2 linked regions of the Homo sapiens genome follow. The protein of the gene in region 1 interacts with the protein of each later gene in a pairwise test. Each region holds a gene or a part of one and is shown in the gene's direction. Other genes may lie near its edges.

What was found.
Region 2: the proteins of CYP4F11 (region 1) and MESD interact in binary tests that used the Homo sapiens proteins (3 or more experiments, as listed by UniProt).

The regions. Positions count from the first base shown.
Region 1 is NC_000019.10:15,917,327-15,924,619, reverse strand, and holds part of CYP4F11 (cytochrome P450 4F11), read left to right. Parts: intron 1-537; coding exon 538-808; intron 809-2,189; coding exon 2,190-2,256; intron 2,257-2,453; coding exon 2,454-2,583; intron 2,584-7,293. UniProt on the Homo sapiens protein: A cytochrome P450 monooxygenase involved in the metabolism of various endogenous substrates, including fatty acids and their oxygenated derivatives (oxylipins).
Region 2 is NC_000015.10:80,975,111-80,979,971, reverse strand, and holds the end of MESD (LRP chaperone MESD precursor), read left to right. Parts: intron 1-494; coding exon 495-753; 3' UTR 754-4,220; downstream 4,221-4,861. UniProt on the Homo sapiens protein: Chaperone specifically assisting the folding of beta-propeller/EGF modules within the family of low-density lipoprotein receptors (LDLRs).

The DNA.
Region 1 (7,293 bases):
GGGGGAAAGAGACAGTAGACATGAGGTTGTGGAAGTAGACAGGGGATAGATTTCAGGACATTGAAAATCAGGAAAAGTGGCATGAACTTTATCAGGAGGTTCCCAGGAATCTTTTGAAGAGGGTTGGGCCGATGACAGATGTGGTCACAGCTGAGCTCTGTGGAGGTCTGCCTGTCATGTAGACGCTACATGGAGCAGACATTGAATGCAAGTCTGTTATGGTGGGGGCTGGGTCAGAAAGAGCTGGAAGACAGTGAGGTCTGAGTTTTGTGAACAGTTTTTGGAAGGAAAAGAGTGCAGGCTGGATACTGGGTGGGAGAGACGGGAGAGAAGCATGGTGTCCAAGCTATGCTCTGGGTACCTTGGTGCATGGAGGCAGCTCTCAGAGATGGAATGCCTCAGAGAAGAGAGTTTGGAGAGTCAAGTCTCCTGGCTGTTTCTGGATACTCAATTTCCTGATGGGCAGTAGCTTCTAGCTGCTGGTGAGAGGTGCTCCTGGGACTTTGCATATGTTAAGTTGTTACCTCCTTCATGCAGGAAGCCCAGTGAATATATTGCCGCCATCTTGGAGCTCAGTGCCTTTGTAGAAAAGAGAAACCAGCAGATTCTCTTGCACACGGACTTCCTGTATTATCTCACTCCTGATGGGCAGCGCTTCCGCAGGGCCTGCCACCTGGTGCACGACTTCACAGATGCCGTCATCCAGGAGCGGCGCTGCACCCTCCCCACTCAGGGTATTGATGATTTCCTCAAGAACAAGGCAAAGTCCAAGACTTTAGACTTCATTGATGTGCTTCTGCTGAGCAAGGTAGGCTTCTCTGGGATGTGAATTCAAGTAATAGAGTGGAGATTTATGCCTCTGTCAAATGAAAGAACTTGGACTTGATCCAAAGGGCACTGGGAGCCATGGAACATGCTTGAAAAAGACAGGTCAGAGATAGGTTTGAGAGATGACTCTGTGGAATTCAGCTGGCAGGGGACTGCTAAGTTTGAAATAGTGAGGAGCCTGAGATTTTACTCTACTTACATGTTAGCAAGTTAGGCTGACATATTTTTATGCATATCTATCTATGTCTATATCTATGATGACAGATGCACCAAATCCCTGGATCACAGCAGCCTATTCATCATTCACAGCAATAGCAGCAACCAGAGTAGGATTGTAGAGCTGGCTCTCTATTCCCATATTCCTTCTAGGGTAATGCAATGTTTTTACCTGTAAATACACCAGAATGCACTGCAGAGAGGGGCCCCACAGTATACATCTTGGGGCTTATATAGGATAGCTAGCTAGCACATCTGCCCCTTCTTCCTTCCAGGGCGAGAGTGGGAATGAGAAAGAGAGAGAGAGAGAGAGAGAGAGAGAGAGAGAGAGAGAGAGGATGTTTGCTTTGTTCTGGAATAAAAACTACTCCTTTCCAGTGAGATCGACATGCCTGTAGGTTTATAGGTTTATAACCCAGATGCCTTCTGGAAAGATAAGAAGTATTCTCTGAGTTTACCACTCTAGAATGTGAGCAAATACATTCAGAGTAATACTTCAGTTCTTTCTTTCTTTCATTTTTTTTGAGACAGAGTTTCACTCTTGTTGCCTAGGCTGGAGTGCAATGGTGTGATCTTGGCTCACTGCAACCTCTGCCTCCCGGGTTCAAGTGATTCTCCTGCCTCAGCCTCCTGAAGAGCTGGGATTACAGGCATGCAACACCATGCCAGGCTAATTTTTTTTTTAGTAGGGACGGGGTTTCTCCATGTTGGTCAGGCTGGTTGCGAACTCCCGACCTCAGGTGACCCACCTGCCTCGGCCTTCCAAAGTGTTGGGATTATAGGCGTGAGCCATTACGCCCAGCCAATACTTAATTTCTAACCTCCAAGTGAAATTGCCATTGAAATATGCTGTAACCCAGGTTGCCAGTTAATGCTTTACTCCAAAAGTCCTCATTATTCGAAACAAGAAAATATCCATAGGTCATTGACTCTTCCCAGCAGGGCCAAATAGGAGGTGAAGAAGCCAGCGGGAAGCCTGTGGGTGGTGGGCTCTGATGGTGGTGACCAAGAGACATCTAGGAGTGCATGATGGGCTTGGGTTTCTGGAAGGAGGATGGATCTTCAGAAATTATCTTAGGTTTGACTCAAGAGCCTTCAGAGCTGGTGTGATTTGGGGCAGGGATATTGTCTTGCCTTCTCTCCAGGATGAAGATGGGAAGGAATTGTCTGATGAGGACATAAGAGCAGAAGCTGACACCTTCATGTTTGAGGGTGAGGGTCTCAGTGTGGGACTACGGTGGGGACAGGGGCCTCTCCATCCCAGGAACGTAGTGGGTGGACCCTGGATCACTTAATTCTGCCCATCCTCCTCCTCCCTACATTCTCCTGAGGGCCTCAGAGTTTGGGTGCTCTCCTCCCTCTGGTGCTGAAGCAGCCCAGAAACCCAGTTTTGCTTGGCTGCCCCTCAGGCCATGACACTACAGCCAGTGGTCTCTCCTGGGTCCTATACCACCTTGCAAAGCACCCAGAATACCAGGAACAGTGCCGGCAAGAAGTGCAAGAGCTTCTGAAGGACCGTGAACCTATAGAGATTGAATGGTGAGTGCAGGTGCTGGCCTGTTCCTGATCTTTTGTCATTGGTTCTGCTCCTCAGGTGGGCAGAGGGAGGGAGTTTTTTTGGTCAATTCTTCCATTATCGCTTAGTGGGAATCGGTGCAAATCTCAGAGGCAGGGCTTAATACACAGCCAGGCCAGCAGGGGATGGTTTGCAGGCTTTTGGGACCTGGGCTGCTGGGAGAATTTGTGACAGCATGTGAAGGCAGATGATGCCACTTAGCATGTGTTCAGCAAATGAATTTCTCCTCCACCTCCTCTTTTCACTGAATTATCATGTTTTTTCAAACATCTTCACTTTCTGAATGTTTGCTCTTCCTTACCCTAATTTCAATCCTGTTGTACAGTCCAGGGATTTATAAGAGAGACCTGAGGGTAAAAGTCATTCATTCCTATCCAGAACACCTGCATTGTTCATCCATCCAGTCTTCATTCAGCAAATGCTCCTACACTGTATTCCTATCCCCAGTTTTGTATCTAGCACCTTTCGGTGCTCTGGAGAGCTTGGAAGAATCCAGCCCTGCGATCTGTTTTCCAGGTGCTCCCAGCCTGGTGGGGGAACAGTCCCAGGACAGGAAACTCCCAGCCCACATGGGCAGGGATGAGGCTGAGAACAAGAGAAGCATGACTGGAGGTACAGAAAGTGTCTCACCCGGCCACAGTGGCTGGCACCTGTAATCCCAGCCACTCAGGAGGCTGAGGTGGGAGGATCACTTGAGGCCAGTACTTCAAGATGAGCCTGGACAACATAGTGAGAATTTTTCTCTAAAAGACATGAATAGATGAAAATAAAAGTGAGGTGTCTCAGTTGAGATCCTTAATAATGATCAGTAGATATTTGGATGCAGTAGGGCTCTAGGTCAAGAAGAGAGCCTAGGCAAAGGTCGAGGGAGGAGAGAGGGAGTGAGAGAGAGAGGGAGAGAGAGAGAGAGAGAGAGAGAGAGAGAGAGAGAGAGAGAGAGAGAGACAGAAAGAGAGAGAGAGAGAGACCAAGAGTGAGAGAAACAGAGAGAGAGAAGAGAAAGAAAAGAGGGAAAGAGAGAAGTGGCTTGTGTGCAGGGGGAGGGAGAAGGTCATAAAAAGAGAATGGAGAGAGAAGGAAAGCAAGAGAGAAAGAAAGAGAGAGGGAAGACAGAAACAGAGAGATGAATAGAGAGGGAGAAACTGAGTCATGATGAGATGATGAACCTGGAGATGGCAGCAGAGCCTGGGTGTGGAATACATGGAAAAAAAAGTCAAGAACTTCAATTTTAACTCAAGGGCAATGGGAAGAGACAGGTAGCAGGAGAATCTTTTTAGGGCTAGTGTAGAGGGCATACTGGAGAGGACCAGTTGTAGAAGGAAGTCCCAGGGAAGGACATTCTGAGGTCTGAGCCAGGCCAGGAGCTGGGGATGGAGAGGAGACATTGAGCTGGACAGGCCTTTTGAAGGTAGTGCCCTTACATCCAAGCCTTTGCTCAGCACAGGGTCCTGTAAGGTGGAGAAACATTTTTATGCTTTTAAAACCAAGATTTCAAGCAAAATTACACATTGTTTAAAAAAGTGTCCAAAAATTTTGATAAAAAATGAGCTTCCTTCTTAAGCCTCACACTCCTCACTCTGGCAGTTTCCATCATCAATGGTTTTCTGTGTGTCCTAGAAAATGGCTATCCTGATGCCCACTGTATATGAACACATGCTCTCTTTTTCTGTGTGAGTAGGAGTACATAAAATAGACACAGGTCTGCCCACTAACAATGTATCTTTACCATCTTCTGTTTTTCTCAAAATATGAGTTTTAGAAAATGAGTTTGTTTTTTAATTTGTCTTTATTTTTAATTGACAAATTTTGATTATATATATTTATGGGGTACACTGTGATGTTATGATGTACACAATGCAGAATGATTAAATCCACCTGATGGTCATATCCATTACCTCATATACTTATTATTTTAGCAGTGAGAACATTTGAAATTTTCTCTTTTAGCCGTTTTGGAAAACATAATCTATTATTATTAACTGTAGTCACCATGCATATAATAGATCTCAAAACTTTTTCCTCCCGTCTAATGGAAACTTGTACCCTTTGACCAACATCTTCCTGTTCTTTCTTCCTCCCTCCTCTGGCAACCACCATTTTCTTCTGTCTCTGTGATTTCTATGTAACCTATTTTAGCTCTCACAGGTAATTGAGATCATTTGCTATTTGTCTTCTTGTGCCTGGCTTATTTCACTTAGCATAATGTCCTCCAGAATCATCCATATTGTCACCAACGACAGGATTCTTTTCATTTTAAAGACTGAGTACCATTCTATTTTGCATTTATACATGGAAAATGAGTGTTGACTTCCAAAAGCAATGATGAGAACAGATTCTTCTTGGACTCAATGCGACACTACAGATAAGACAGGGTTTAACCTTGACATTCCCACCACCCCACCTAATATCCTCGCTTTCCCTAAAGGGGTCTCTTGAGACATCAATTTGTCATCTAACTGTCTGCTTATCTATCTGTCTATCTATCTATCTATCTATCTATCTATCTATCTATCTATCTATCTATCTATACATCTGTCCATCCGTTCATCCATCCATCCATCCATCCATCCATCCATCCATCCATCCGTCCATCCATCCTTTATCCTATCTATTCATCCTTCTTGTCTATCTATCTATCTATCTATCCATCCATCGATCTATCTATATCATCTATTTCCATATATATACTATGTATTTTATTTATATAAATAGGAGTCAATGAAATATATACATATTTATATATTTTAATATATATTAAATTTATTAACATATTTATTTAATTTAATAATTAGGAGTCAATGAAATGTATATATTTCATATACATAGAAATATATATTTCCATATATACTATATATATTCCTAATTATTAAATTATAATGTTATTAATATGTTTATTTAATTTAATAATTAGGAGTCAATGAAATGTGTATATTTCCATATACATAGAAATATGTATTTCATATATATATATACTATGTATTTTGCCCTTTGCTATTTACATGTATGCATTTTGTGGCTTATTTTTGCCACTCGACAGTGTGTCTTACAGCTGTTTTTTTTTTTTTTAGCATGGCATAACATTCCATATTTTATTTGTTTCACACCTTTGTTGAAAGCACTTGTGTATCTTTCCAGTTATTGTAGATATGGCCAATTTGCCTTCCAGAATCTCTGTACTGATTTACCTTCCAGCCTGCATTGTGTGACACAGCTAGTGACCTGTTTCCTCCTTTTTTGTAGTTGCATTGTATTCTATGGTACTAGCATTCTGTTGTGTGGATGTTTATCTAAACCTCTTTCCATCAATGTATATTTAGCTTGTTTCAGACTTTTGCTAAATTAAACCTGTTGCAGTCAGCATGTGTGTACAGTGACCATTGCTTATTTGTGTGAATATCTCTGCAGGACAAATTCCCAAAAGTGCAATTGCAGAATAAAAGGCCATTTTACTCCACAATTTTAATAATAATAAAAAATCTATTCCTATTAGCTGAGTTTGATGGCAACAGCTTTCCCATAACTTCGCCAAGAGTATTACATTATTATTATTATTTTTTTCAACTTTTATTTTAAGTTTCAGGCTATGCAGGTTGGTTACATAGGTAAACGTGTGCCATAGTGGTTTGCTGCACCTATCAACCCATCGCCTTGGTATTAAGCCCAGCATCCATTAGCTATTCTTCCCGATGCTCTCACCTCCCCAACCCCTCCCTGTGACAGGCCCCAGAGTGTGTTGTTCCCCACCATGTGTCCATGAGTTTCCCTTGTTCGGCTCCCACTTGTAAGTGAGGACATGTGGTGTTTGGTTTTCTGTTCCTGCATTAGTTTGCTGAGAATAACGGCTTCCAGCTCCATCCATGTTCCTGCAAAGGACATGATCTTGTTCATTTTTATGGCTGCATAGTATTCCATGGTGTATATGAACCACATTTTCTTTGTCTGGATTATCACTGATGGGCATTTGGGTTGATTCCTTGTCTTCACTATTCTGAATAGTGCTGCAATGAACATATGCATGCATATATCTTTATAACAGAATGATTTATATTCATTTGGATCTATACCCAGTAATGGGATTTCTGGGTCAAATGGTATTTCTGCCCCTAGATCTTTGAGGACTCACCACACTAAATTTTTGTCAGTCTGCATATTTCTTCTTTTAGTGAACGTTTCCTTAAATAAGAGTGGGATAGAACATCTCTTGCCATTTTTTTTCTTTTTGTGGAAGAGATCATCTTACATTGCTGTTTTCCTTTGGGTTATTTTCCCATATTTACTTATGAGACTATGTGTTAAAATAAATCTTTTTTTCTGTCTTTTGTTGCCTTTTGACTTCTTGGGGACACTTTTGGTTAGTTTATATGAAGCCAATTTTGTCCACATTTTCTTTTGTAGCTGTACTATCCATCCATTTCCCAGGGTTTTGTGGGGCTTCCTTTACCAGATGTGGGTTTTCACTTATTCACATATCTGTCTCTGAGCTCCCTATTCCATTCTTTGGTCTGTTTTTCTGTTCTTGCAGCTTTGCCATGCTACATTTGTTACTGTAACTCAGTAATAGGTCTTAATGTCTGGTAGAATGACTTTCTCTTCTGTTTTTATTTCAGTAATTTGGGGGTGGGGTACAGGTGGTTTTTGGTTACATGGATGAGTGCACCTGTCTCCTAAACAGT
Region 2 (4,861 bases), on another chromosome or scaffold:
TGTCCAACAACCAAGTGTCCTCTTGAGTCCTTCATAGCCTCTTATCATGACCCACTCTAAGCCATTGGTTTTCCACCTTTATCAGCAGAAGTCTTTTGTCCCATAAAAGTGTAACTGGACACTCTAGAATATAAAACAGATACAGATCAGATCGAAGCTGCCTCTTTACCTCCCCAGCAGCAGCCCCTGAGCCACCTCTGCAGTGTCCTAGGGAGGTTTTCCAAATGTTCACTTTTAACACGGGCATCCATTTATACAACAAAGGAACATCCAGTGTCTGTTTCTATTTTGATCTGAGCTGGATGTTTAATAGTTCAGCAAGCTAGTATTTTAATACATGAGATATCAGTAGCTGCTAGGCTTTGGAAAATCCAATTTTTCATTCCATATTCATGTAGAATTTGAAATAAACTGATAAGTGCCAGAGAATTGCTCTGACCCCTTAGCACCTTACTAGTACGTGCTGGCTGACTGATTGCATCTCTCTGCCCAAGGTTCATTGTGGGATCAGACCGTGCTATCTTCATGCTTCGCGATGGGAGCTACGCCTGGGAGATCAAGGACTTTTTGGTCGGTCAAGACAGGTGTGCTGATGTAACTCTGGAGGGCCAGGTGTACCCCGGCAAAGGAGGAGGAAGCAAAGAGAAAAATAAAACAAAGCAAGACAAGGGCAAAAAAAAGAAGGAAGGAGATCTGAAATCTCGGTCTTCCAAGGAAGAAAATCGAGCTGGGAATAAAAGAGAAGACCTGTGATGGGGCAGCAGTGACGCGCTGTGGGGGGACAGGTGGACGTGGAGAGCTCTTTGCCCAGCTCCTGGGGTGGGAGTGGTCTCAGGCAACTGCACACCGGATGACATTCTAGTGTCTTCTAGAAAGGGTCTGCCACATGACCAGTTTGTGGTCAAAGAATTACTGCTTAATAGGCTTCAAGTAAGAAGACAGATGTTTTCTAATTAATACTGGACACTGACAAATTCATGTTTACTATAAAATCTCCTTACATGGAAATGTGACTGTGTTGCTTTTTCCCATTTACACTTGGTGAGTCATCAACTCTACTGAGATTCCACTCCCCTCCAAGCACCTGCTGTGATTGGGTGGCCTGCTCTGATCAGATAGCAAATTCTGATCAGAGAAGACTTTAAAACTCTTGACTTAATTGAGTAAACTCTTCATGCCATATACATCATTTTCATTATGTTAAAGGTAAAATATGCTTTGTGAACTCAGATGTCTGTAGCCAGGAAGCCAGGGTGTGTAAATCCAAAATCTATGCAGGAAATGCGGAGAATAGAAAATATGTCACTTGAAATCCTAAGTAGTTTTGAATTTCTTTGACTTGAATCTTACTCATCAGTAAGAGAACTCTTGGTGTCTGTCAGGTTTTATGTGGTCTGTAAAGTTAGGGGTTCTGTTTTGTTTCCTTATTTAGGAAAGAGTACTGCTGGTGTCGAGGGGTTATATGTTCCATTTAATGTGACAGTTTTAAAGGATTTAAGTAGGGAATCAGAGTCCTTTGCAGAGTGTGACAGACGACTCAATAACCTCATTTGTTTCTAAACATTTTTCTTTGATAAAGTGCCTAAATCTGTGCTTTCGTATAGAGTAACATGATGTGCTACTGTTGATGTCTGATTTTGCCGTTCATGTTAGAGCCTACTGTGAATAAGAGTTAGAACATTTATATACAGATGTCATTTCTAAGAACTAAAATTCTTTGGGAAAAACCCTCAATTGTGATTTTAATAAATTAAAAGTAGCACATTACATGGTTAGAAAATGTCAGTGTTAAAGAATGGTACAAAGTGAAAAGTGTATCCCTCTCTTGCCGCCGGTGGTAGCTTGTCCCAGTGGAAGCTGCTGTTAACAATTTGTGCCCCCACATCCCCCTCCCTGCCCATCCACCAAAAAAAAGTACATTTACTTATGTAAATGTACTTATGGTGATGTATGTTTGTTTTGGCCTCACAGCATCTGTTTCCCCTTAATTTGGTAGCTGCTCACATTTCCCTCGAAAGAACCACACCCTCTGCATTCTCAGTTCTCTGCTTTGGATGGGACATTTGCCCTGCAGTCCCCCCACCCTCCAGGCCATGCCCTCTCCAGGGTGAGGCCTGTGTGATCTACCGTACTAGGGTACTAGGCCCTGAAAGAGGCTTTTCTTGTTCCTCCTGCATCTTGAACCTGGAGCGGGAGCTGTTGTAGGCCCCGCCCTTGGAGAAGAGAACTGTCTGACAGTGGGGAGAGAGCGCCACACCCTGGTGGCATAAACGAGTCCCTGAATCATGCCGTGGCTGAACCAAGCCCTGTCTGTGGGCTTTTTCTGTTGTACTCAGGGCAGTTTGATGGGGTTACTGTCCTGCATAGCCATAATGGCCCAGTATAAAGCAGCTGTTTTGATGAGATAATTGCTTTAATTAAGCAAAAGGTAGCAAAGCTTTCACTCCGCCCTGTACCTTCTGTTTCCACTTAGGAGCCTTCCCATGTCAGAATGTGCAGATCTGTCTCATTGTTTCCTGTGCAGTGTGCCCCCACTTCACCCAGTAGTTTCTGTGTGTCTGTTATGTACTAGGTACTACAAGGTGCCAGGACGGTGTAGATACAGCCTCTGCTATCGTAAAACTCAATGATTCGGTGGGGGAAGACAAATGTCAGTAATGTACAAAGTAAAATGGCAGCTGTTAGAAGTATGAAAGGGGCAGGGTAGGGGGAGGTAGAATCTTCCCTGACCAGGTTAAGAAAACCAGAGGCCTTCTCTGAGGGCAAGAGGAGGAGAGGAGAAATAGAGTAAGGCAGGCAGAGGAAACAGTCTGAGCTAAGACCCTGTGGCTAGAAGTGGCAGAGGGAGAGGCAGCAGGAAGGCCAGCGGGGAGGCTGGGGCCCAGTGCAGGCCCAGGTTGGAGGAGCGTAGCACATGGAGTTTGGTAGGAGTTTGGGACGCCCTGGTGGATCTTAATTGTGATGGGGTGGGTGTGAAAGGCAGTCCAGGTTGCACTGGTTGCACAGGAGAAGTGATCAGAAGAGGACCCCAGCAGGTGTGAGCCGTGAGCTGGGAGGTGCTTCAGTAGTGCAGGCCATAGCTGAAGGTGTCCTACATCAGCAGGGTGATGGTGAGGTTTGAACCACTGTTTCACTGCATAGTCCCTGCTGATGGACACTTGAGTGTTCAGATTTTTTGCTGGTATATTCAGTGCTGCAGTGGACATTTTCATACAAAATATTTCGGTACACTTTTGTTTATATCTGAAAGGTAAATTCCTAGCAGTAGAATTATTAGAGCAAACGGAATTTAACATTTTGGTGTGTATTGCCAAATTGCCCTCCCAAGTGGTTTAGTCAGCTTACCCTTGCCAACAATAGATCTATCCTTGCCAGCCTTGGGCATCACATTTACCAGTTTAATAGATTGTAAAACCATATCTTAATTGGCTACCCTGAAGCCACCATACTGGAGAGGCTGCGTACAGTGTTTCACGTAGAGAGAGGGATACCCAGGAGGCCCACCTGCTCCAACCCCAGCTGCATGAGTCTTCCCAGCCCAGGCACAGACATGTGGATAAGATTTAAACATTTCCAGCCCCAGCCTTCAAGCAATCCTAGTTGACACTGAGGGGAGCCAACATAAGCTGAGCTGAGAAACAGTCTGCCCAGTCTGCAGATTCATGAGCAAAAGAAATGTTGGGCTGGGTACAGTGGCTCACGCCTGTAATCCCAGTACTTTGGGAGGCCGAGGTGGGTGGATCAGTTGAGGTCAGGAGTTTGAGACCAGCCTGGCCAACATGGTGAAGCCCTGTCTCTACTAAAAATTAGCCGAGTGTGGTGGTGCGGGCCTGTAATCCCAGCTACTCAGGTGGCTGAGGCAGGAGAATGGCTTGAACCCGGGAGGCGGAGGTTGCAGTGAGCCAAGATCAGGCCACTGCACTCCAGCCTGGATGACGGGATGAGACTCTGTCTCAAAAAAACGAAACAAAAATTTTTTAAGAGAAATGTCATTTGTTTTTGTTTTTGAGACAGGGTCTCACTCTGTTGCCCTCACTAGAGTGCAGTAGGATCACGGCTCACTGAAGTCTCTACCTACCGGCTCAATTGATCTTCCCACCACAGCCTCCCAAATAGCTGGGAGAAATGTCCTGTTTTTAATGAATTTGTCTTCCTTTTTGTCTTGTTTGTTTTAATATCTAGTGATCTAATAAATTTGGATGATATCTTTTGACTATCAATTATGAAACCTGTATCAGATATACACATCTTTCCTTCTTCATCCTCAGGCTTTCTGGTTTTGATGGTGATACTGTGGCTTTTGTACTTCTGGTGGTTTCCCTTATACTGTTAAACCTCTTTTTTTTTTTTAAATTAAACCAACTTAGTATGCATTAACCACTGAACAAGGGAAAGGAACTCACAAACTTTTTCCTGTGTCCCTGATTATTGTTTAATAGTGTTTGTATACTGACAAGATACATAATATCCACCTTCTGCACCCACAGTGTCCGCCTTTATGCTTGGACAAGAGCATGCAGGGTAGGACATTTCTGAGCCTTGCTTTTTTCCCTGGAAGTTTTTTGTTTGTTTGTTTGTTTTTTAAGAGACAGGGTCTCTTGCTGTCTCACTCAGGCTAGAGTGCAGTGGTGTGTTCATAGCTCACTGCAGCCTCAAACTCCTGAGTTCAAGCCATCCTCTTGCCTCAGCCTCCCGAGTAGCTAGGACTACAAGCATGCACCACTATGCCTGGCTAGGTTTTTTTTTTTTTGTTTTTTTTTTTTGGAGAAATGGAGGTGTCTCACCATGTTGCCTGGGCTGGTCCTCAAGCAATCCTCCTGCCTCGGCCTCCGATTCACTGGTATTAAGTTGTGAGTCACCA